Homo sapiens: one gene and its partners. The protein of the gene in region 4 purifies or fractionates together with the protein of the main gene of each other region. This does not show direct contact. Each region holds a gene or a part of one and is shown on either strand. Other genes may lie near its edges.

Region 1 (3,500 bases), on a different chromosome or scaffold from region 4:
AAGTTAGTAATTTCACTTGTAACAATCTGTCCTAAGGAAGCACGCTTAAAAAAATGCTGACAGAGATTCACTGCAACATTATTTATTATGGTGAAAAACCAGAAAATACCTAATATCACAAAATAGTTCATTAAATTATAGGACTTTTTCTGTTGTTTTTTGGAGACAGAGTCTCACTCTGTCACCCAGGCTAGAGTGAAATGACGTGATCTCAGCTCACTGCAACCTCTGTCTCCTGGGTTCAAGCAATCTCCTGCTTCAGCCTCCCCAGTAGCTGGGATTACAGGAGCCTGCCACCACACATGGCTAATTTTTTGTATTTTTAGTACAGAGGAGGTTTCGCCATGTTGCCCAGGCTGGTCTCGAACTCCTGAGCTCAGGCAATCCGCCCACCTCGGCCTCCCAAAGTGATAGGATTTTAGGCGTGAGCCACCATGCCCAGCCAAATTATGGGATTTTAAAATAATGGAATCTTATACAGTCATGAAAAATTATGTTTCAAATATTCATGCTTGAAATATATCAGGAAAAGACTCATGTTAACAAATGACAAGGCAAGGAAATTACATACATGATGTGATCAACTATGTAAAAACCATATTACAGAAAGAAGACTGAAGAAATGTTTAAACTTTATTTGCATTTTTTTGTATTTAAAAATTTTAATGAATAACCTGTATAGGTGGAAAGTATTACTTAAAAAAATGAAAAGCATGTAATCAGGACTTCCTAACTCGGCCTCCCCTGTTCCCATTACTCTAACTTTCGCATGCACACACACGTACCTTGTAGCCTCCAATTCTGTGGTCAGGTTTGAATTCTTTGCCATTTTTCAACCAGCGCAGTGTGGGGTTTGGGGTCCCACTGGAAGGGCATTTGAACTTCACTGTCTTGGCAGCCGGCACTGCATGCAATTTCTTTTCCATCTTTTCTGGGGATGTCCAATATGGAGCTACGGCTGCCCGGGGAAAGCCAAGAGAGACAGGCAGGGTGGAGAGGAGCAGCTGGTCAGGCTCAGGAGCAGGGCCCAGGCCAGGACCTGGAGGTGTCTTGCCCATCTGCCCAACACCTGTGAGCAGTGCCTGGCACTTAGCAGAACAGGCACCGTGACCCCATGTGCCCTCCTCTTCCTCCCCTTTCAGCCTTCCCCTCCCCTCTTAAACCCAATGCCCAGACCCAAAGGGCAGTAAGATAGGAAACAGTGTCTCACGCATACGGTTTGGTTTGGTGTTATCTGTTTCTTTCTCCTCTGAAGAGGAGTCATCATCATCATCATCATCCTCCGAGGAGGGGAGAGCATCTATGGGAAGAAGAAGGGGCACTGAGGTTCCTCCTAGGGACCCCTAGATTTCACCAAGGCTAGTGCAGTTCCAGATGAACACGGACACCCTCCCCATGGGGATCCCAGTCCCACTGCTCCCTTAGTGATGATCTCTTGGTGGGATGGAAACTGTTTAAGAACAGTTCCTGTGCGTGTTTGCTTCCTTCCCCGAAGCACTGCCCCCACTGCCTGGAAGCCTTCACACTGGGTGGTTCCATCAGGGTCAGCTGTTCCTATTTAACTTAATTCCGTCCTACATTCAAAGGCGCTTTCTCAACTTGTGGTGCCACCTGGGTGTGCTGGAGCCAGGCAACCTGTATTCTTCTTTGGACGGCTGACTATAGGGAAACCCAGGCAGGTCTAGACACACTGTGGCTAGATGCTATTTCCAAAGGATGGGCTAAACACCCCACAGTCAGAATTTTTCTAGCATGTGTCTACTAAGGTTTGGGGGCTGCCCTCCTTAATCAGAGCAGATAGGGCACCCACCACCCCAGCAGCTGCCAACACCTCTCCCCAATAAGTATTTATTTCTTGTAAGAACACGCTTGATACACATGTGGTCACCCATCAGGGTTCATGCCAGATCTTTCTCCAGTCCTTCCTATCACCTTTGGGGATCTGCTGCCAAGTCCACACCCTGAGGTGCATAAATGGCATAAAGAAAATTTCAGCTCCACTTCCTCAACTCCTAGTTTTGTGAAAGTCACATTCTAAGAGTGGCAAGTTCCCAAGTTCACAGAGCTCCAGGGCTCCCTGGCTGCCCTCGCACAGCTCCCTTGCGGTGCACCTGGGTTCCTCTCCAGCAGAGCAGGGATACCACCACCTGTTCAGGGCCTCTAATCACTAAGCCGAGTACCAAGTCCAAATGGCAAGGGAGTGATGGAGTGGAAGCTGGCCGAGCACCACTTAGCCTCCTGGAGATCTGGGCAAGCTGTGGTGGAAAAAAATCACAGGGTCTTAACATCCCAAGAGCCCTGGCAATCACCTCCGAGGTGTGTCCTGGAAGCCCCAGATCTCCGGCCCTGGGGCCCACCCCACCTAGTCACCTCTCTGAGAGCCAAGCCACGCGGCAGGCAGGGAGCAATGTTAGTGGGCAGCAGTTTCTGAAGCAGAGTGGGGGCAGATCACGGAGGGGGAGGAGGTTCACCTTCCTCTGAAACTGGCAGAGAGGGCTGGAGGGGGTGGGTCTAGGGAGGGGCAAGGGCAGGGCTTGGCTACCAACCTGAAACATTGACGGAGAAGTAGGTGGTGTCACTGCCCGAGGGGCTGCTGGTTACGCAAGCATAGAGGCCGGAGTCTGCGGGCACGGAGTCCTGCACCTCCACCTCCTCCCCTGTGATGCGGGTGCGGTTGCTTTCCGCCAGCTGCACCCCGTCCCGCAGCCAGTTGATGCTCTGCACATCGTCCCGCAGCCGACAGCGAAGCTGCAGCAGGTCACCGGGGTGGACCAGGAAGGACTCCACTTCCACAGGGGCTCCCCAGGGCTGGGCTGCAGCCACCACGGGGCCGGGAAGGGAAGCCAAGGGGCGAGAGAGGAAGACAGGGAGAGGGGAGGAGGGGAGAGACAAAGGGAATTACGCTGGCCACACGGAGCCGCACCATCCTGGGCATCACTTACTGGAGGCTACTGAGCCAGGGCAGTGGGAATTGGAGCATGGGTCAGTGGGGAAAACAGCTGGCTGCCTGGGAACCCCCATCTCTTTTCCACCCCACTCCTCCAAAAGTCAAAGGAAGAAAGAGGCAAAGTTAGGAAGCAGCTGTAGCAGCATTAAGCGCATTTCATTTCCCCCATCCTAAGGGGAAAGGTCGGCCCTCCCCAGGACTTCTTTGTGTCCGGAGTTGCCCCCTCCCCAGATGCTCAGTTCTTTGCCAAGATTGCCACTTGCCAGAGGAACACCCCATTTCCTTTGGGATAGCTCAGCCTCACCCTTCCCTAGCAACAGCTGAACAAACCCCGCCCCTCAAAACCCCAGCAGCCCCTGCCCAAGTCGAGAGAAGGCAATTTGTCAACTGGGGGCTGACCAGGATGCGTGTGATTCGGAGAGGGTGGGGGTCTGGCCCTCGACGCGTCAGATGCACATGCTGGGGGGGCAGCCCAAGGAGAGGTCAGCTCAGGGAACCTCTCGCTAACAGGTGTCAGGGCAGGGGATTTGGAGCTGTTGACTATATTAGGACG
Region 2 (2,950 bases), on a different chromosome or scaffold from region 4:
GTGCCTGGCGCGTCCCAAGCCTCTGGCCCCTTTTGGTAGTTTGCAGTCCCGGGTTTGAGTACAGGCTCTGGCTTTGTTAGACTGTGTGACCTGAGGCGTAAGACCTCAGTGTTCCCATCTGTCGAGTGGAAGAAGGGATCCCTGACCGATGGGAGGCAGGCGTGGGGTCGCCCTCGGTCAGCCCAGAGCCCCTCGTGCCCCCTAGCACCAGCTGTACGTAGCCTCGCGGAGCGCGGTGGCCCAGATCGCGTTGCACCGCTGCGCTGCCCACGGCCGCGTCTGCACCGAATGCTGTCTGGCGCGTGACCCCTACTGCGCCTGGGACGGGGTCGCGTGCACGCGCTTCCAGCCCAGTGCCAAGAGGTGGGCGGGGTCGGGGTTGGGCCGCCGGGAGGGAGGCGAAGGGTCTTTCACTGCCCGGGGCTGAAAGAAGGGCTCACAGAAGATCGGATGTTCCCCACAGGCGGTTCCGGCGGCAAGACGTAAGGAATGGCGACCCCAGCACGTTGTGCTCCGGAGGTGAGTGCCCCAGCTGCCCCTACCCTCAGCCCCAGAAGACGCCCCACCTGCCCTGCCTTGCCTAAATCTGACTTTCTTCTCGCCCCAAGACTCGTCTCGTCCCGCGCTGCTGGAACACAAGGTGTTCGGCGTGGAGGGCAGCAGCGCCTTTCTGGAGTGTGAGCCCCGCTCGCTGCAGGCGCGCGTGGAGTGGACTTTCCAGCGCGCAGGGGTGACAGCCCACACCCAGGTGAGCCTTACTCCGCCCTCCCCGCCAGGCTCCTGTCCCACCCCCTGCATCCAGGAGAGGCCCCGCCCTACCCAACGAAGCCCCGTCCAACCAGACCCACTCCCCGCCCTGTCCAGTTTGGTCCCTCACCTGCACTCCACAAGCTGCTGAGGCCCCATTGCGTCCAACGGGGCTCCCGACCCGCCTCCCCTGAATCAAGGAGAAGACCCGCCCTCGACCCTCCCATTAAGGTCCCTGACCACCCCCCACCAAGTTCATGTAAACCCCGCCTCTTTCGGATTCTCCCTTGAAGACCACCAGCTCCCAAACACTCAGCCTTAAAATGTGCGCCTGCGGGCACCCCTTTCCCGCTCCACCTCGGCTCCCAATGACTCTTTGCTTCTTCCGTCGCGTGCTAGGGCCCGGAAGCCCTGTTCCCGGCCCGACACCCCCGCCTCACGCTGCCCTCTGCCCGCAGGTGCTGGCAGAGGAGCGCACCGAGCGCACCGCCCGGGGACTACTGCTGCGCAGGCTGCGGCGCCGGGACTCGGGCGTGTACTTGTGCGCCGCCGTCGAGCAGGGCTTTACGCAACCGCTGCGTCGCCTGTCGCTGCACGTGTTGAGTGCTACGCAGGCCGAACGACTGGCGCGGGCCGAGGAGGCTGCGCCCGCCGCGCCGCCGGGCCCCAAACTCTGGTACCGGGACTTTCTGCAGCTGGTGGAGCCGGGCGGAGGTGGCAGCGCGAACTCCCTGCGCATGTGCCGCCCGCAGCCTGCGCTGCAGTCACTGCCCCTGGAGTCGCGGAGAAAGGGCCGTAACCGGAGGACCCACGCCCCTGAGCCTCGCGCTGAGCGGGGGCCGCGCAGCGCAACGCACTGGTGACCAGACTGTCCCCACGCCGGGAACCAAGCAGGAGACGACAGGCGAGAGAGGAGCCAGACAGACCCTGAAAAGAAGGACGGGTTGGGGCCGGGCACATTGGGGGTCACCGGCCGATGGAGACACCAACCGACAGGCCCTGGCTGAGGGCAGCTGCGCGGGCTTATTTATTAACAGGATAACCCTTGAATGTAGCAGCCCCGGGAGGGCGGCACAGGTCGGGCGCAGGATTCAGCCGGAGGGAAGGGACGGGGAAGCCGAGCTCCAGAGCAACGACCAGGGCCGAGGAGGTGCCTGGAGTGCCCACCCTGGGAGACAGACCCCACCTCCTTGGGTAGTGAGCAGTGAGCAGAAAGCTGTGAACAGGCTGGGCTGCTGGAGGTGGGGCGAGGCAGGCCGACTGTACTAAAGTAACGCAATAAACGCATTATCAGCCAAAGCTGGAATGGCCCCAGCAGAAAACCCCAGTCCTCGGCCTTGCTATGTGGTCTTGGGCACCTTACTAGCGGTGTCAGGGCCCGAGTTTCTCCTGTCCAAGGTTGCCTGGTGAGGATTAAAGGTGGTTCCGGCCAGGCGCGGTGGCTCACGCCTGTAATCCCAACACTTTCGGAGGCCCAGGCGGACGGATCACGAGGTCAGGAGATGGAAACCATCCCGGCTAACACGGTGAAACCCCGTCTGTACTAAAAATACAAAAAATTAGTCGGGCGTGGTGGCGGGCGCCTGTAATCCTAGCTACTCAGGAGGCTGAGGCAGGAGAATTGCTTGAACCTGGGAGGTGGAGGTTGCAATGAGCCTAGATCTCGCCGCTGCACTCCAGCCTGGGCGACAGAGCGAGACTCCAAAAAAAAAAAAAAAAAAAAAAAAAAAGGTGGTTCCGCGTGACTGAACAGGTTCTGTAGGGCCTTTGGGAATAGTGACACGCAGGGTACATTGTGCATAATATAACTTCAGGACTAAGTGCTAGGAAGAAAATAAAACTGGACCGGGCGCAGTGGCTCACGCCTGTAATCCCAGCATTTTGGGAGGCCGAAGCAGTCGGATCATGAAGTCAGGAGTTCAAGACCAGCCTGACCAACATGGTGAAACCCTGTCTCTACTAAAAATACAAAACTTAGGTGGGTGTGATGGCACGCGCCTTTAATCCCAGCTACTCAGGAGGCTGAGGTAAGATAATTGCTTGAACCAGGGAGGCAGAGGTTGCAGTGAGCCGAGATCGCCCCACTGCACTCCAGCCTGGGCAACAGAGCGAGACTCTGTCTCAAAGAAAAGAAAACTGGGTGATGTGGAAAAGAATGTACACAGAAGGCCTCACTGAAGGGGTGGCATTTGAGTTCGCTGAC
Region 3 (3,500 bases), on a different chromosome or scaffold from region 4:
TAGGCAACACAGTGAGACCCAGTCTCTACAAAAAGTCAAAATATTAGCCAGGTGTGGTGGCGCACGCCTGCAGTTCAAGCTACTTGGGGCTAAGGAGGGAGGATCGCTTGAGCCCAGGAGGTTGAGCAGTGAGCTGTGATTATGCCACTGCACTCCAGCCTGGGCAACAGAGTGAGGCTGTCTCAAAAAAATTTATTTAATTAAACTAAATCAATTCAGTTATCCTAGTCATATATCAAGACCTCAGTAGCCATGTGTAGCTAGTGTGTACCATTTCAGACAGTGCAAATATAGAACATTTCCATCATTGCAAGTTTGTTTTTTTTTATTTTTTGAAACAAGGTCTCACTCTGTCACCCAGGTGGGAGTACAGTGGTGCAATCATAGCTGAATGCAGCCTTGACCTACTGGGCTCAAACAATCCTCCCACCTCAGCCTCCCAAGTGGCTTGGACTACAAGCACTCATAACCATGCCCAACTAATTTTAAATTTTTTGTAGAGATGGGGTCTATGTTGCACAGACTGGTCTCAAACTCCTGGGCTCAAGAGATCCTCTGACCTTGGCCTCCCAAAGTGCCAGCATTCCAGGTGTGAGCCACCATGCCCAGCACTGCAGAGGTTCTATCAGCACTGACCTAGACCCTCTCAAGAGTTTCTTAAGAATTCAGAGCTAGGGCTTGGCACGGTGGCTCATGCCTGTAATCCCAGCACTTTGGGAGGCCAAGGCGGGCGGATCACTTGAGGTCAGGAGTTCAAGACCAGCCTGACCAACATGGTGAAACCTCATCTCTACTAAAAATACAAAATGAGGTGGGCGTGGTGGCGCATGCCTGTAATCCCAGCTACTCGGGAGGCTGAGGCATGAGAATCGCTTGAACCAGGGAGGTGGACATTGCAGTGAGCCGAGATCGCGCCACTGCACTCCAGCCTAGGCAACGAGAGCGAAACTCTGTGTCAAAAAAAAAAAAAGAATTCAGAGCTGGTTACCTTTTCAAAGAGGATGCGCAAGCAAATATATCCAAGAGCCACTTCCCCTACTTGACTAGTTTGCAGAAGTGGCATTCTGTAAGCACGATAAATTTAAGGGTGCAAACAGAACAGCGCAGTCCACTGTGGGTGGCTGTTCCCTGTGTGTCAACCAGGAGCTGTGACAAACAAGTGTGAGCTGGCTGGGGTGGGAATGAGGGGCTGGATGGGGTTCAGGAATCCACAGGAAAAAAAAAACCTCACAAGACAAACCAACATATCTTTGGTGAGGAGGACAAAAAAATGAGATAGATTAAAAAAATGACGACAGGCTGGGCATGGTGTCTCATGCCTGGATTCCCAGCACTTTGGGAGTCTGAGGCAGGACAATCACGTAAGGCCAGGAGTTCTAGACCAGCCTGATAGACTCCATCTTTACAAAAAAATTTAAAAATAGGCTGCACATGGTGGTTCATGCCTGTCGTCCCAGCTACTCAGGAGGCTGAGGTGGAAGAATTACTTCAGCCCTTTAGTTCAAGGCTGCAGTGAGCTATGATGACACCACTGCACTCCAGCCTGGGCAACACAACAAGACCCTGAAAAAAAGAAAAAGAAAAAAAGGCTAGCACAGTGGATCATGCCTGTAATTCCAGCACTTTTGGAGGCCAAGGCAGGAAGATCAATTGAGTCCAGGAGTTTGAGACCAGCCTGGACAACATAGCAAGACCCTATATCTAAAATATGAAAATTAAGAAAAAGGATATTTTAGTTGGTGATTATGGTGCCAACATGGGCATTCCAGGCAGAAGAAACAGCTCAAGCAAGAGCAGGAGAGCAAGCGAGGGCAGTGGAAACAGATCAGTGGCTGGGATAGAGGGGAGAAGGGGATGAAAACCCAGGAGAGAGCAGAGGACACTGAGTGTCCTGACCAGAGGTTAGGGCTTTGTCCTGTGGGCCTGGGGGAGCCAATGACAGGACTCCCAAAATTTTCAACTGTGGCTGGTGCAGAGGCTCACACCTGTAATCCCAGCACTTTGGGAGCCTGAGGCAGATCACTTGAGGCCAGGAGTTCAAGACCAGTCTGGGCAACATGGCAAGACCCCATCTCTACAAAAGTAAAAAAATTAGCCAGGCGTGTTGGCATGTGCCTATGGTCCCAGCTACTCAGGAGGCTGAGGTGGGAGGATCACTTGAGCCCAGGAGGTTAAGGCTGCAGTGAGCAGTGATCGCACCACCACACTCCAGCCTGGGTGACAGAGAGATCCGGTCTCAAAAACAAATACAAATTTGGATCTGTTAGAAAGACCACTTGGGCACGGGTGATAGGAGGCTATCTGGAAACAAAGCCAGTAAGGAGGCCACCTCTGAGGACCAAGTGAGTGGGGCACAGGCCTGGCTGTTGGCGGTGAGGGAACGTGGACGGGGCCGTGGGAGGAGAGCCCAAAGCTGAAGCGAGGGGAGCAGTGCAGTGGGCGCAGGTCAGGCTGGAGGAGGTGAGTGACATCTCTGCCCTGAGAGAACACACAAGCAGAAAGCTCAACACTGCTTACCTGGTGAAACCCTGCAATCGTTTCTGCTCCATACTCGCTCTGAATAATGGGCTTCTGATACTTCTTATACCAGTTCTCAAACTGGGTGGCCAGCTGCAGCTGAATCAACTCCAGGTGCCCGTAGTCGTGATACCAAGAGTAGTAGCTGTTCAAACAGATCACATCCACATACGGAGCCTAGGACCAGAGCAGCAGAGCCCGTTCAGCACTCAGTAGACAGCATGACTCAGCATTCACACACTGCGGGGGCTCCTCTGGCAGAGAAGGTAAGGGGGATGTAATCCCAGCACTCTGGGAGGCTGAGGCAGGAGGATGGCTTAAGACCAGCCTGGGCAACACAGCAAGACTGCAGCATTACAAAAAATAGTAGTAAGAAAATTAGCAGGGCACGGTGGCTCATGCCTGTAATCCCAGCACATTGGGAGGCCAAGATGGGAGGATCACTTGATCCCAGGAGTTCGAGACCAGCCTGGGCAACATCACAAGCCCCCATTTCTACCAAAAAAAAAAAAAAAAAAAAACCTAGAACGGGAACAGCTGCCTCCTGGGGCTGAGAACGTCCAAGTGTACCAATTTAGATCCTGAAATTACCCTGCCATAGGCAAGAAACATGGTCACAAAGTGGCCCAGAGGAGGTAGGCCTGGGACTCCACACTGACACTCATGACGTGCGCCGCTGGGAAGGGCTGTGAGAGGCACAGCAGCTGCCAACGCACAGCCCTCAGCCAAAGCCCAGGGCCCCCACCACTGGAACTGACTCCTCTCCAGGCAGCACTCCCATCACTGGGCTTCCCCTCACCTTGCCCTGGAGAAGCGCTGCCACCCGAGGGGCCGATGCAGTCATTCTCACAGAAAATCTTTTGTTTTGTTTTGGAGACAGAGTCTCGCTCTGTCGCCCAGGCTAGAATGTTAGTGGTGCGATCTCAGCTCACTGCAACCTCTGCCTCCCACCATCAGGTGCTTCTCATGCCTCAGTCTCCCGA
Region 4 (3,500 bases):
ACGGGCGTACTGCCAGGAGCGGGGTGCAGAGATTGCCACCACGGGCCAACTGTATGCAGCCTGGGATGGTGGCCTGGACCACTGCAGCCCAGGGTGGCTAGCTGATGGCAGTGTGCGCTACCCCATCGTCACACCCAGCCAGCGCTGTGGTGGGGGCTTGCCTGGTGTCAAGACTCTCTTCCTCTTCCCCAACCAGACTGGCTTCCCCAATAAGCACAGCCGCTTCAACGTCTACTGCTTCCGAGGTGAGCCCACCTCCCTGCAGAAGCTGAGACCAATCTCAGAAAGGCAGAGTTGAGTCCTAAAAGTCCTACCCCAGTCTGATCAGTTTAGCTCAGGGCTTTGCCATTTGCCTGAAGTGGTCGTGGGTGAAGTCCAGCTTGTCATCTAGGGTTCTAATTCTGGGCATGCCCTCTGGTGTGGTGTCTGTCAGCTGTTTGGCCCAAGGAGTAGTCACCTTTTGGCCTCTCCTTATCTGCCTTCCCACCAGTAGTCCATGCCTTGTTTGCTCCAGCTGGGCTGCTGAATAAGCTCCCATCTCCTGTCAGCTTATTGGCAGAGCAAAGACGACCAACATTCTGTGAATTCAATGAGTAATCTGCCCAAGTTCTTCCAGTCAACAACCAAATGCCCTCAGGAGCCCTCTGGAGGATTTCCAGAAACTACAGCTTAAGAAGGTGTCAGATCTTTAACTACCAAATACTGGTGGATGGATACAATTCCCCCAAAAGGGAGCAAGACCTTAAGTACAGTTGGGAATAGAGATAGCTTTCTGCCCACATCTTATGGCTTGTTTCTTTTTTTGAGACAGGGTCTCACTCCGTCCCCCAGGCTGGAGTGCAGTGGTGTGATCATGGTTCATTGTAGCCTCAACCTCCCTGGGCTCAGGGGATCCTTCCACTTCAACCTCCGGAGTAGGTGGGACCACAGGCTTATGCCACCATGTCTAGCAAATTTTTGTAATTTTTGTAGAGATGGGGTTTCACCACATGCCCAGGCTGGTCTTGAACTCCTGAGCTCAAGCAATCTACCTATCTTGGACTCCCGAAGTGCTGGGATTTATAGGTGTGAGCCACTGCACCCAAACCTGCCCATATCTTATGTTGGGAGCTGGAGCGGGAGGCAGTTTCTGGGACTCTCAGATGCAAAAGGCCCAGGCCAAGGGTGACCGACAATAAGAGAGGCATTGCCATGCGGTGTCTCGGTCCTTCCCCAGTTTTAAGCCTGAAATACTGTTACAAGAGCTGGAAGCAGAAATGGAAGGAGCAGACACAGCCTTGAACCTCAGGGAGCACTTGGTCTGAAGGATGAAGACACAGCTTTTGCCATGGGAACCCCCAGCAAAGGGAAGACAAGATGCCTCACTCCCAGGATGAGGAGAGACTGAGAGAAAAGCATTACTTCCATTTGGACAGATCTGTGGACATATTTGGCTGGGGTTGGGGAGGGGTGGGGAAGTAAAAGTCCATAGGAAGACAGGTCCATCTGAAAAGACCTCCTGGAACAGGGGTAGTAGTAGTAGTAGTAGTAGTAGTAATAATAATAATAGTAATAGCTAAAACTTCTGTGTGCTGGCTATGATTGTGTGCCAAGCCAAGCACTGTTTTGGAAAGAAATGGCCTGGATCATGAGGAGGGGCAGGGGAGGGGGAATATGACTACAGTTGGGACTACGATTGGTGGAGGACACAGGCAGCAAGGACACAAGGTCTGGTGAGGAGTAAGGCTCACTGGAGCAGGTGATGAGGGCAGGGACTCACTGTCCTGTCTTGCCTGGCTGAGCACAGACAGCCCTCAGGACTTTTCTTAGCCCAATTCCACCTTCACTTCATTGGTTTTCTGCTCTTGGCTCCCTTCCCCAGAGGACAAGTAAACCATTCTAAACTTCTGGTTATTTGAAAGGAGTAGGTCCCAGAAGGAGGTGGCCTTTTCCCTTGCCTACTTGCCCCACCACTGAGATCCTCAGGTGATGCCTGAAGTTATTCCTGCACTCTGCCCTCCAGCTATCCTGAGGGGATGACAGCCTCTCCCCTTCTATTTCAAGAATTTTGGAGGCTCGGTGCAGTGGCTCATGCCTGTAATCCCAGCACTTTGGGAGGCCAAGACCACTTGAGGCCAGGAGTTCGAGATCAGCCTGGCAAACACGGGGAAACCCTGTCTCTACTAAAAATACAAAAATTAGCCAGTTACGGTGGCACATGCCTGTAGTCCCAGCTACTTGGGAGGCTGAGACGGGAGAACCGCTTGAATCCAGGAGGCGAAGGTTGCAATGAGCTGGGATCGTGCCACTGCACTCCAGCCTGGGTGACAGAAGGAGACTCTGTCTAAAAAATAAAAGAATTTGGGGATACCTGGGACACCTCACACCTTGCCCCAAGCCCAAGATCACAAGGTGGTAAAGCTATTTCATCCATCCTGCTGGCTCCAGCCCCTCCCCCTAGGGAATATCTCTCACCTGAGCCTTTCCTGACCACTCCAAAGTAGTATTTTCCATCACTCCATCTTCTAACTCTGCTCAAGTGTTCTTTATCTTGTAAGATTATAATATATGTTTGTTTGTCATCTGTTCTAGAATATAATTTCCCTTGAGGGTAGGAGGTTTGCTATTTTGTTCTGCACTGTATCCTCAGTGCCCAGGGGAATGCTTGGCATGACACACTGTAGGCACTTGATGAATGCTTGAGAAATGAGTGACGAAGTTCTGGGATGCTCCCTGGGCCCCAGTAGGTGCTCCACAGGGAAGATGTGAGAGAATTGAGAGAATTCCATGGTGCAAGCTGTGACCTGGGAGGGCAGAGCTACCTATTCAGGCTCGCATCAATACTTTCCTCCTGCCACAGACTCGGCCCAGCCTTCTGCCATCCCTGAGGCCTCCAACCCAGCCTCCAACCCAGCCTCTGATGGACTAGAGGCTATCGTCACAGTGACAGAGACCCTGGAGGAACTGCAGCTGCCTCAGGAAGCCACAGAGAGTGAATCCCGTGGGGCCATCTACTCCATCCCCATCATGGAGGACGGAGGAGGTGGAAGCTCCACTCCAGAAGACCCAGCAGAGGCCCCTAGGACGCTCCTAGGTAAGTCGGATCCCTTATCCTAAGGATGTCTTGATTGAAAGAAGTTGGGGGCAGAAGAGGCAAGCCCAGGTTGATGCTAGGGTGATGGATGACATGACTCTGCCCTGTCCTTTCTCAGTAGCTCAGGGGTGCAGGGCACCTTTCCTGTCCCTCTCCCAACCTTTGCTTTTCCAGTAAATTCCACCCCCAACTCTATGGAGCTAGAGATGCTTGCACTAAGGAGCTGCGCCCTGGAAAGGTGGAACCTGCCTTCTTTGGTCCCTCTTCCGCCTCACACACCCAAAACAGACTAGAGTTTTGACAGAGTAGGAGGGAGACAAATGACCATGTTCTCCGGGGCTAATGATGGCTCACAGAGCCTTCTCAAGTGTTGCCTCAACAATATGGCTGGGGTCAAGTTCTTCCAGTGTGGCGCAAGGACCACCTG
Region 5 (3,500 bases), on a different chromosome or scaffold from region 4:
GGGCTGATCAGATGCTGACTGAAGAGAGATACAATCAAACTTCATTTCAGAACTCACTGAGCACTTCTGTTCCCAAAAGGCTGTCTTGTTAAAAACCAAATGCTTTTCTTCTTGGGTACAATCCATGTTAGAAAAGAATTCCTCATGGTTCTTTGCAATAGTATCTTCAAAGATTCCTTTATTAGAAGGCATGTCAGTTTTATTCGGGTTTACTGCTAATTTGGAAGGAGATTTAACTCTTAAGGAGCCCTTAGTACCCATGCGTTCATGGAATTTCAAGCCAGCTGATAAAGTTTTACCCTGAGATTTTACATCTTTCCACAAAACCAACTTATCTGAATTCATGCGTAAAGATTTCCTATTTGATTCTTTATGTTTCTGATACGAAAATGAAGTAGTTTCTACATGGGATGATGGCACAGGATTTCTAGAGGCCCCATCTGGCTGTTCAAGATATTTCTCAACTTTGTTTGGGTCACATTTGCTAACTGAATCCAAATGAGCTGCTGGTGGTAAACTAGTTGTATTAGCTGTAACTGGTCTATCGTTAGAGCTTTCAGGTAAACAACTAGCAGGAGCATTACAAATCACTGGGGGGCGTACCAAGTTGCTTCTATTATTTGTAGCCTGACCAATATCTACTAGGTTACATTTTCTCACACTGGCCCCAATTTTATGAACAAACTCCAAGGGCTGCTGCTGTCCCTTCTCCAGTTTTTGAATAACTGATGGTCGAACTGAAACCTCCTGCGTGCCTTCCTGAGATTTATGAGGTCTGGAATGTAACTCTTCAATAGGTTCTGAAACCTCGGATGGTCTCTCTTCGGTAGCATCCTCATCCTCAACCTTATCCTCATCCTCTTCCTCTTCTTCAGAAAAAGCATCATCCAAATGCACCACTTCAGACGATGACCCAGTATTCACATGTGTCTCATCTTGTGTTGAACTAAAACGAAAGGGGGGAAACTCATAAACATATTCTAATGTCTGTTTAAAATATTAAAATAGAGGCATAATAAATGTTATTTGCTTTCTGTTCTGGACTATCCTTAAAGGACAAGGAATCCAGGCAGTCACCCCAGGCTGAACACTGCATGGACCACAGAGGGGGAATTACTGCAGAAGGTGGAGGTGGCTCCACCAATTGCTACTTAAATACAAATGGCCCCTAAACATGAAAAACTAAACAAATAAAATCATATATTATTTTTCAGTTATCAGAGTAGTAAATAGCAAAAAGTTTGACATATGTTACTTAACTTTGTATGCTTCAGTTTCTGCCTCCAAAAAAAGGGAATCTTACACTATTTTCCCTCATGAGATTGTTTTGATGAGTAAATTAATTGTTACATGTAAAGAGCATTAAAACAAAGAAACAGCTTGGCACACAGTAAGCATTCACAAATGTTAGCTATTATTATCTTAACACATTGTTTTGGTGCGGGTGTAAGGACAAAGGCACTTTAATACATTGTTCATAGGAATATAGATCAGTTAACAGTTACTGGTTAACCTCTATGTAGATTTGTAACCTCTACAAACAGCAATTTGGCAATGTCTATTAAAATTAAGAATGTACATACCCTTTGACCTCTAATTCCACTTTTGGTTTTCTCATGTGTTTAATGAACACGTACAAGAATAGTTACTGCTACTTTTGAGCGGAGGGAGGGGTAATAGCAAATGACTAGAATCAACCTGAATACTCAGTAACTGGGTACTGGTTAAATAATTAATGGTATTTAATGGAATACAATGTGGTTTTTAAAAATAATAAAGCGGCTCTATATATACAAATAAAAACCAATTACTATAAACATTGTTAGTGAAAAGCAAGGGTACACAGAAAGCTACCATTTATGTAAAATAGAAGGGAAAAAAATAATGCACTTAGAATATCTGGAGAATGGCACATACAACTGTAGAAGTCTAGAGGTGTCAAGTGTTACCTCTAGGGAAGTGACTACAGGATGGCAGCAATTTAAGAAGACTTACTTTTGAACGTGCACTGTGAATTATGTCTATGTATATGTATTTCCCATTCAAAATTTAAATTCCATTATTTTTAAAAAGACCCAAAACTTTCATATCTAAAATCAGTCTATGAATCTCTTCTACCAGTATCAAGACAACATGTTTGACCAAAGCATTTCAGGGACTGTTCTTTCATGTACATAAAACCAACTGACCTAATGATATTGCCATGGCCTGAATTCTTAAAGTCGGGCAAACATTCATTCATGTAACAACCATCTACTAAGGACTTACTACTGCATTACAGGCACTATGCTAGGTACTAAGGCAAATTCAAAAAAAGTTAAGCTGCCTTTTAAAGACCATTCAAGTAGCTGCAGAAGGCAGACACATAAAAAATAATAACAATTCAAAGAGATAAGTATCATCACATCTAGACCTGTTTAAAAAAAAAAAAAAAAAGATTAAACTGTCACAGCCAAGAGGGACCTAAAGAGACATTACAAGTTAATGTAATGTGGTATCCTGGATGTGATTCTGAAACAGAAAAAGTAGTAAAACTAAGGAAATCTTAGTTTAAGAAAACTTAGTTTAAGTAGAAACTAAGAAGTCTGAATAAACCATGGACTGTACTAATATCAGTTCATTACTTATAACAAATATATCACATTAATGTTAATAATAGAGAAATTGTGTGAGAGAGTATTATAGGCACACTCTGTACTATTTCCTCATTGTTTCCATTAATCTAAAACTGTTTGTTTATAAAAATAGCCTATAACAATTAAAAATAAACACCTAAAAATTTATTGAATTTTTCCAATTTGAGATGTCATTTGTCTAAGAGAACATGCATACATGTGTCAGCCATATGCAATTTCATTTTAGCCTAAGTATTACTATCCCATATAAATTTATTACCTTAATATTAATTTTGAATTTAGAAAATAAAGTTAACCCTGCATCAAAAGTATTGTGATGCAGCAAAAAACAATTCTAATTTTTCATACTTCTCAACAATGACACTGCAGTGCAACAATCACTTCACTCTAGTTTTTCAGAACCCTAAACTATCTTCATTTGTCTTAAGGACTATCACAACATTCTCAAAATAAAACCAATTGTGCAATATGTAGCTAAGAAAAGAAAGAAAAGGGAAAAAAGAAAAGAAGGTATAATCATAAAATCATACAGCTGGTAAAATCCCAAGAAGGTCATGAACTGCCATCTGGATGCTTTGATCTGCATCTGTATTTGTGTGTGTATAATATGCTTAACAATTAAATCATAATCCACATTTAACTCATCATTTGTAACCACACAACAACAAAAAAAGCTCTCTAAAAATCTAACCATTAAAGATTAAAAACCACTCTTTTGGCCAGGTGTGGTGGTTCATGCCTGTAATCCCCCCACTTTGGAAGACTCAAGTGAGAGGATCACTTGAGGCCAAGAGTTTGAGACCAGCCTTGGCAACATAATGAGATCCTGTTTCTACAAAAAATTTAAAAAATAAGCCAGGCATG
Region 6 (2,270 bases), on a different chromosome or scaffold from region 4:
GACACCTGGGGTGTACGTGGGGTTGGGGGAAGGCCAGGGTACAGAGCCTGCTGGAAATGGAGACCCTGGGGGCTGGGTGTGAGCATGATACCTCAAAACATGCCCTTTCCTCCAGTCCAGCTCACTGCTCCCTCAGTGGCCCAGGGTAAGGGAGGGAAGGAAGCCAAGAGATCCTGTCTGGGGTGAGACAGTGTGCGGTGTGGAGGGCAGAGCATGGTGGAAGATTGCACTCCTGGAGCTGAGCCTTCCCAGCTCCCAGGCCTGTGCTCCTCTCCCCACCGGTCGCCTGGGTGTGGGCAGCAATGACCCTGGTCAGCCCTTCTCCTGGATCTCTGGGGGCTGAGGGCAGATGTGGCTATCATTCTCAGCATTCCCCTCCATCTCGCGACCTCTCCGGCCCTACCTCAGCTTCCGCAGCTTTTGCTGCAGTCCTTCTTGCCCCAGCCTGTGGGCAGCGGCCACCTCTCCTGTCGTTCTTAAGGCAAGAAGAGACGCGCAAATAGAGAAAATAATTTAATAGAGAAACAATGAATGATACTCTTTACACTCAGCCTCCTGCAGGGAGGACAGACAGCTCTTGCCCAAGGAAGCATTTAAGGGCAGAAGGGCTACAAATCACCAACACCCGCTGATTATTTAAAAGAAACTCTCAAATACATTCTTTTCCAGGTTAAATTCACTTTGTCCTCATAAGTGCCCATGCTGTGGGCTGTGAAGGTATCAGCCCCATTGAAGAGATGGGGAGACCCAGGCCCAGAAAGGGGAAAGAGCTTGCCCAGGGCTCCACGGCGGCAGGGCAGGCCTAGAAGTGGGTGGCCTAGAGGGCACTGGGTCAGACTGTCTCCAAGCCTCCCTCTCCCTGTCCCAGGCTCAAACTCCAGCACAAGGCCCGCGCTGTGGCTAGTGTGGGGCCCAGAGGGAACGGAGGTGGGAGAGATGAGGACCAAGGAACCCTCCTGAGTGCTCCCTAGGCCAGGGCAGGAACAAGGCTTGGGCTTCTTAAACCCCAAAAGATCCAGCTTTCATGCTTGAGGGATTAACCTAAAGTACCAAGATGGCGGGCAGGTGTGAGTTCCCAGAAAGACTGGTGGGTTCTGTGGGGCTGAGTGCATACTGTGGGGAGGGTGGTCCCTGAGGGGTGTTGGAGTGCCCCATTCCAGTGCAAAGAGGAGCTGAGTTGGAATAAGGGGTCCCGGGAAGGGCAGGCCAGGGGCACAGCTGCCTGCTGGCAGGGCGAGGGCAAGCACAGAAGTACCCTGCGGGGGCCCCTTGCCCTCTTCTCGGAGCCAAAAATGATAGAGGGCTGCATGCCCCAAAACGGACAGGCACAGGACCCAGTAACCACCGAGTAACAAAGGTCTCATGAAAGAAGTGCTGTTCTCCCAGAGTCCTGCCCTCCCCTCCAGTATACAGCACAGCCATCAAACCATCTGTGGGGTGCAGAGTAACCTGAGGGAGGCTGGGGACTCTGGGATATGGGGGTCTCAGCACTGTCCATCCAAGAAGCCTGCTCGCCAGGGCTGCAGTGGGCCACTTCATTCTTGGCGTCAGCCTGGGTTAGTGCCCCTCTGCTCCAGATGGCTCACATCTGTCCAATCATTCTTCTAGGGTCACTGAAGGGTGCAAGCTACGGGGGTGAGGGGGACAATGGGGGAGGGTCAGTCTCAGGTCTTTGGTAAGGGAGGCAGAACCCAGGGCCCCCAGCCCTCACCCCTCCTTGGATGGAGGATCGACCCCAGGGCAGGACTCACAGCTACGAACAGATTCCGACAGTCCCTCTTTGTCCAGGGTGTCAGCTTCCCAGCGAGATTCCCTCATCTGTGGGATGTGAAGGCAGCACAAGGGATGAGAGGCAGACACACGAGCCACAGCGCAGTGCCGAGCAAGTGAGAGAGTGAAGGACGGGGACACGAGCCACAGCGCAGTGCCGAGCAAGTGAGAGAGTGAAGGACGGGGACACGAGCCACAGCGCAGTGCCGAGCAAGAGAGAGAGTGAAGGGCAGATACAGGGACAGGGAGGCCTGCAGAGGAGGCGAGAGAGCAGACATACACCAGCAGGGGGGGACGACAGCCACAAGCAGAGAGCAACAGAACCCACAGACCCTAGCCCCAGCGTGGCCCCCATGTGCCCACCTTGACCTGCTCCTTCAAGTATTCAGCTCGGGCCATGAGGTTCTGAACCTGCCAAGGAAAGATATGCCCTTGGGTGTGGGGGAGAGTGGCGGGGGGTGGGGTTTCAAAGGGAACTCCTCCTCACCCCTGATGCTCTC
Region 7 (3,967 bases), on a different chromosome or scaffold from region 4:
TCCCCATTTCTTTTGTGGTATCTCCCCCTACCACAAACCAGGCTGGAACCCAAGCCCCTTCCTCCACAGCTGCCTTCAGTGGGTAGAATGGGGCCAGGGCCCAGCTTTGGCCTTAGCTTGACGGCAGGGCCCCTGCCATTGCAGGAGGGTTTGGTTCCCACTCAGCTTCTGCCGGTCGGCAGCCTGGGCCAGGCCCTTTTCCTGCATGTGCCACCTCCAGTGGGAAACAAAACTAAAGAGACCACTCTGTGCCAAGTCGACTATGCCTTAGACACATCCTCCTACCGTCCCCAATGCCCCCTGGGCAGGAGGCAGTGGAGAACCAAGCCCCATGGCCTCAGAATTTCCCCCCAGTTCCCCAAGTGTCTCTGGGGACCTGAAGCCCTGGGGCTTACGTTCTCTCTTGCCCAGGGTGGGCCTGGTCCTGAGGGCAGGACAGGGGGTTTGGAGATGTGGGCCTTTGATAGACCCACTTGGGCCTTCATGCCATGGCCTGTGGATGGAGAATGTGCAGTTATTTATTATGCGTATTCAGTTTGTAAACGTATCCTCTGTATTCAGTAAACAGGCTGCCTCTCCAGGGAGGGCTGCCATTCATTCCAACAGTTCTGGCTTCTTGCTGTAGGACCAAGGGGTTGCCCTGGAGGAGGGGTGGGGGCCCCGGCCTCGGCATGGCTACTCTAGGAAGAGCCACTGCTACTCAAGGAGTCACTCAGCCCCTTCTGTGCCAGAAGTCCAAGTAGGGAGTCGGACCCTCAACAGCCTCTTCTTTCTCCTGAGCCAGGAAGACAGACATGAATGCATGATGGGACAGGGCCTGGGTCTTTAATGGGTTGAGCTGGGGAGGGCCTGTGGTGAGCTCAGTTGTAGGCTATGACCTGGTTGATCCAGGTGCTGAACTTGCTAACTCGAGTATACACAGCAGGTGCGCGCACATTGCAGTTTTTGGTGCCCCAGGAGACAATACCAATAAGCACCCATGTGTTTCCCTTCTGGCAGACAAGAGGGCCTCCGGAGTCACCCTGAGAGGGAAGAGGGAGGGAGAATTGAGTAGGGGGGGTTGGGGAGGTATACCACAGGACAGCGCAGAGGAGCGGGTGCTGGGGCTTACCTGGCACGAGGAGGCACCTGCGCCACCTGCACAGATCATGGAGTCAGTGATACTTGAGCCCCAGTACTGCCGGCACTGATTCACAGTGACCAGGGGCAAAGCCACCTGCTGCAGATGTGCTGGTGTCACATTGCCTGTGGGCCAGGAGGGGTGGTCACATGGGGCCCAGAACACTGGTCCCCACCCCAGTCCTCCCACCCTGAGCTTTGGCCTGAGTCCCTACCCACGCCACTGAGGCGACCCCAGCCGGTGGTGACACACGTGAGGCCTTCAGTCAGAGCCTCGTTTGAGGATGCCAGGCAAACTGGCGAGATGCGTGTTGTGTACTGGGCTGGCGAGGCGAGCTTCAGCAGCGTCACGTCATTGTTCATGGTGGTAGAGTTCCAGCTAGGGTGTGTAATGGCCTGTGGGGTCAGAAACAGTCCATGTTCTGATGGGTGCTGAGCAGGGTAGGCCAGGGCATGTCCTGAATTCCTCGTTCCCAGCACCCACCCACCTGCACTGCCCACTTTTCCTCCGTGTCTGCAGCCCAGGCACTCACCCGAGAGACGGACAGAACCTGCAAGGGCTCTGCGTTTGATGATCGGTCATACTCGCCCAGGACAACAAAATGGCGGCCAGGGCTGCAAGGGGGTGGGATTAGGCAGCTGCAGGGAGGCCAGCGCGAGAGGGGGACAGCCAGGGGAGGAGGCAGGAAGAGGCGAGGGGCGGGGCAGGTGGAATGCAGGCACTCACCTGACATTGCAGTGGGCAGCAGTGACCACCCAGGACTGGCTGATGAGAGAACCACCGCAGAAGTGGAAGCCGCTGCTGTCCTGTGGTCAGGGCTCAGAGGTCAGAGTGGGGGTGGGCTGCTGAGGCTGCCCCTAGGCATGACGTACCCAGGACCCTGCCCACCCCTCTGGTGGTGTACCTGCAGGGACACCTGCCAGGGCCAGGAGCCCAACACTGCATTCTCCCCGTTGACAATCCTCTGGCTGAAGCTCAGTGCCGGTTTGATGGCAGGAATGCCGCAGCCTGGCCATTGGGCTAATGAGGACCTGCTTCCCATGCCTCAGCCCATCTTTCCCCACCTCCTTTTGGGTGCCCCAGGCTGTGCACCCCAGAGAGGTCTGTCGAGAGGGTACAGCACTACCCCTTCCCCAACAGGGTACATGCAAGCACCTTCGGGCCCCACAGCTATCTTGGTTATCCCTATCCACCCAGTCCCCCAGCCCTGCTGTTCTCCTACATCTGTCTCCAGCCTAGTCCCCGCTGTTCCCCATCTCTACCCCTGGTCTCTCTGCCCCCTCCCGACCTGAACAGTTCATACCCTTCATGCAGCCAGAAGGTTCTTTCTAAAAGACATGGACAGGTCTTCCTGTCTCAGCTTCCTAAACCCTCCCGGGCTCCAGGGCCTGGCTCAATCTCTGGTCCTATTTGTGAGACCACCCCACCTCTTGCCCCCTCCCAGCCCTGCAGGCCTGTTCCCTGCTCCACTGCCCTGGCATATCCTGTTTCTTTTGCCCACTCTGTCCACCTTCGTCCCTTCCAGCCAGCCTAGCTCCTTCCCTGGGCTGTTGCTGGGAGCTGAGTTGCTCCCAGGGCTGAATCAGGGCTGGTCCTGGCCCACTCACCCCAGGAGGAGCCGAGGAGAACCAGGCTTAGGGTCAGGCTGAGCAGCAACATCGTGGCAGATGTGAGGTTGGGAGCTGGGTCTGGCTTTATGGGTCTTCTCGTCCTTGAGCTAAAGCTCCAGGCCTGAGGCCAGGCCAGCTGTGTAGACTCAGCCCCCTCCCACGCTCCAGGCAAGACAGGCCCTTTAGGCCAAGGTCCCCTGACCGAGACCTAGACTTATCAGACAGAGCCCAGGTGTGAGACTCACCTCTGCCACCTCCCAAAGCCTGGCCTCTAATTGGCTCCCAGAACCACCTCCCATTCCAAATGTTGAGCCCTCGGTACTGAGGACAGATGGTTAAATTAGGTCTATAGTGACAACCTGGTGGCTGGGATCACAGGAGTCACCCAGGGCTAACAAAGGCACCAGGCTTTCAGAGAAGGCCGCTCAGCGTCCAGGGTGTTCTGACTGGTGGATGGAATGCTCACTGCGGTCAACTTTGCTGTGAAGGGCCAGGGGCTGTGAGGTTCTGGCAGGCTGGGAGTCCTAACACATCATCGCAGTGGTTCCTCGTCCATTTGGAACAGGAGTCACAGGTCTGCTCAGAGATGGTGACTCTCCCACCAGCACGTGGTTGAGTTGTACACAAACTCGCATTTGTCTGGCGCTGAAGCCTCCGCTCTTAACAATGAGATGATACTTATGAAGGGCCTGGCATTTAGGAGGGCAAAGTGTGAGCTCTTGGTGCCTGGCCGACCGTGGACTGAGGCTGCAGGTGGAGAGTGACAGACATCAAATCTCTGCCACCCTCTTTAGGCCTTGGGGCTCCCATGGGCAAGCCCCTGGTGTCTGTAGCCCATTTGTTACTGAGCTGCAGACCAAGCTTGAAGGGAGAAGACACCCTGTGTGCAAAGTTCCAACAGGTGCATTGGCTGGCGGCCTTCTGGGAGTGTGAGGGCTTTAACTGATTCAAGAACAGATCAGGGCTGGGTGTGGTGGCTCACACCTGTAATCCCAAAACTTTGGGAGGCAGACGTAGGAGGCTTGATTCCAGGAGTTCGAGACCAGCCTGAGCAACATCATGAAACCCTGTCTCTACAAAAAAAATTTTTTTAAATTAAGAAATGAGCTGGGTATGATGGTACACACCTGTAGTCCCAGCAACTCAGAAGGCTGAGGCAGGAGGGATCACTTGAGCCCTTAAGTTCAAGGCTGCAGTGAGCCATGAGTGCACCACTGCATTCCGGCCTGGGCGATGG

Evidence for each region.
Region 1: the proteins of BCAN (region 4) and FGFR1 purify together in Homo sapiens (affinity purification with mass spectrometry; one large-scale study listed by BioGRID and IntAct). This does not show direct contact.
Region 2: the proteins of BCAN (region 4) and SEMA3B purify together in Homo sapiens (affinity purification with mass spectrometry; one large-scale study listed by BioGRID and IntAct). This does not show direct contact.
Region 3: the proteins of BCAN (region 4) and GUSB purify together in Homo sapiens (affinity purification with mass spectrometry; one large-scale study listed by BioGRID and IntAct). This does not show direct contact.
Region 5: the proteins of BCAN (region 4) and ZDBF2 purify together in Homo sapiens (affinity purification with mass spectrometry; one large-scale study listed by BioGRID and IntAct). This does not show direct contact.
Region 6: the proteins of BCAN (region 4) and ULK3 purify together in Homo sapiens (affinity purification with mass spectrometry; 2 studies listed by BioGRID and IntAct, with this or other methods). This does not show direct contact.
Region 7: the proteins of BCAN (region 4) and CTRL purify together in Homo sapiens (affinity purification with mass spectrometry; one large-scale study listed by BioGRID and IntAct). This does not show direct contact.

Annotation. Positions count from the first base shown.
Region 1 is NC_000008.11:38,427,136-38,430,635, forward strand, and holds part of FGFR1 (fibroblast growth factor receptor 1 isoform 1 precursor), read right to left. Parts: intron 2,814-3,500; coding exon 2,547-2,813; intron 1,301-2,546; coding exon 1,211-1,300; intron 959-1,210; coding exon 786-958; intron 1-785. UniProt on the Homo sapiens protein: Tyrosine-protein kinase that acts as a cell-surface receptor for fibroblast growth factors and plays an essential role in the regulation of embryonic development, cell proliferation, differentiation and migration.
Region 2 is NC_000003.12:50,275,097-50,278,046, forward strand, and holds the end of SEMA3B (semaphorin-3B isoform 1 precursor), read left to right. Parts: intron 1-205; coding exon 206-363; intron 364-463; coding exon 464-519; intron 520-608; coding exon 609-748; intron 749-1,205; coding exon 1,206-1,610; 3' UTR 1,611-2,450; downstream 2,451-2,950. UniProt on the Homo sapiens protein: Inhibits axonal extension by providing local signals to specify territories inaccessible for growing axons.
Region 3 is NC_000007.14:65,965,214-65,968,713, forward strand, and holds part of GUSB (beta-glucuronidase isoform 1 precursor), read right to left. Parts: intron 2,695-3,500; coding exon 2,518-2,694; intron 1-2,517. UniProt on the Homo sapiens protein: Plays an important role in the degradation of dermatan and keratan sulfates.
Region 4 is NC_000001.11:156,648,617-156,652,116, forward strand, and holds part of BCAN (brevican core protein isoform 1 precursor), read left to right. Parts: coding exon 1-245; intron 246-2,839; coding exon 2,840-3,073; intron 3,074-3,500. UniProt on the Homo sapiens protein: May play a role in the terminally differentiating and the adult nervous system during postnatal development. Could stabilize interactions between hyaluronan (HA) and brain proteoglycans.
Region 5 is NC_000002.12:206,302,163-206,305,662, reverse strand, and holds part of ZDBF2 (DBF4-type zinc finger-containing protein 2), read right to left. Parts: intron 947-3,500; coding exon 1-946.
Region 6 is NC_000015.10:74,835,618-74,837,887, forward strand, and holds the end of ULK3 (serine/threonine-protein kinase ULK3), read right to left. Parts: intron 2,182-2,270; coding exon 2,134-2,181; intron 1,819-2,133; coding exon 1,752-1,818; exon of another isoform or gene 1,746-1,751; intron 1,628-1,745; coding exon 1,611-1,627; 3' UTR 501-1,610; downstream 1-500. UniProt on the Homo sapiens protein: Serine/threonine protein kinase that acts as a regulator of Sonic hedgehog (SHH) signaling and autophagy.
Region 7 is NC_000016.10:67,929,074-67,933,040, forward strand, and holds CTRL (chymotrypsin-like protease CTRL-1 precursor), read right to left. Parts: upstream 2,790-3,967; 5' UTR 2,780-2,789; coding exon 2,728-2,779; intron 2,129-2,727; coding exon 2,025-2,128; intron 1,927-2,024; coding exon 1,847-1,926; intron 1,735-1,846; coding exon 1,653-1,734; intron 1,516-1,652; coding exon 1,335-1,515; intron 1,246-1,334; coding exon 1,112-1,245; intron 1,023-1,111; coding exon 861-1,022; 3' UTR 501-860; downstream 1-500.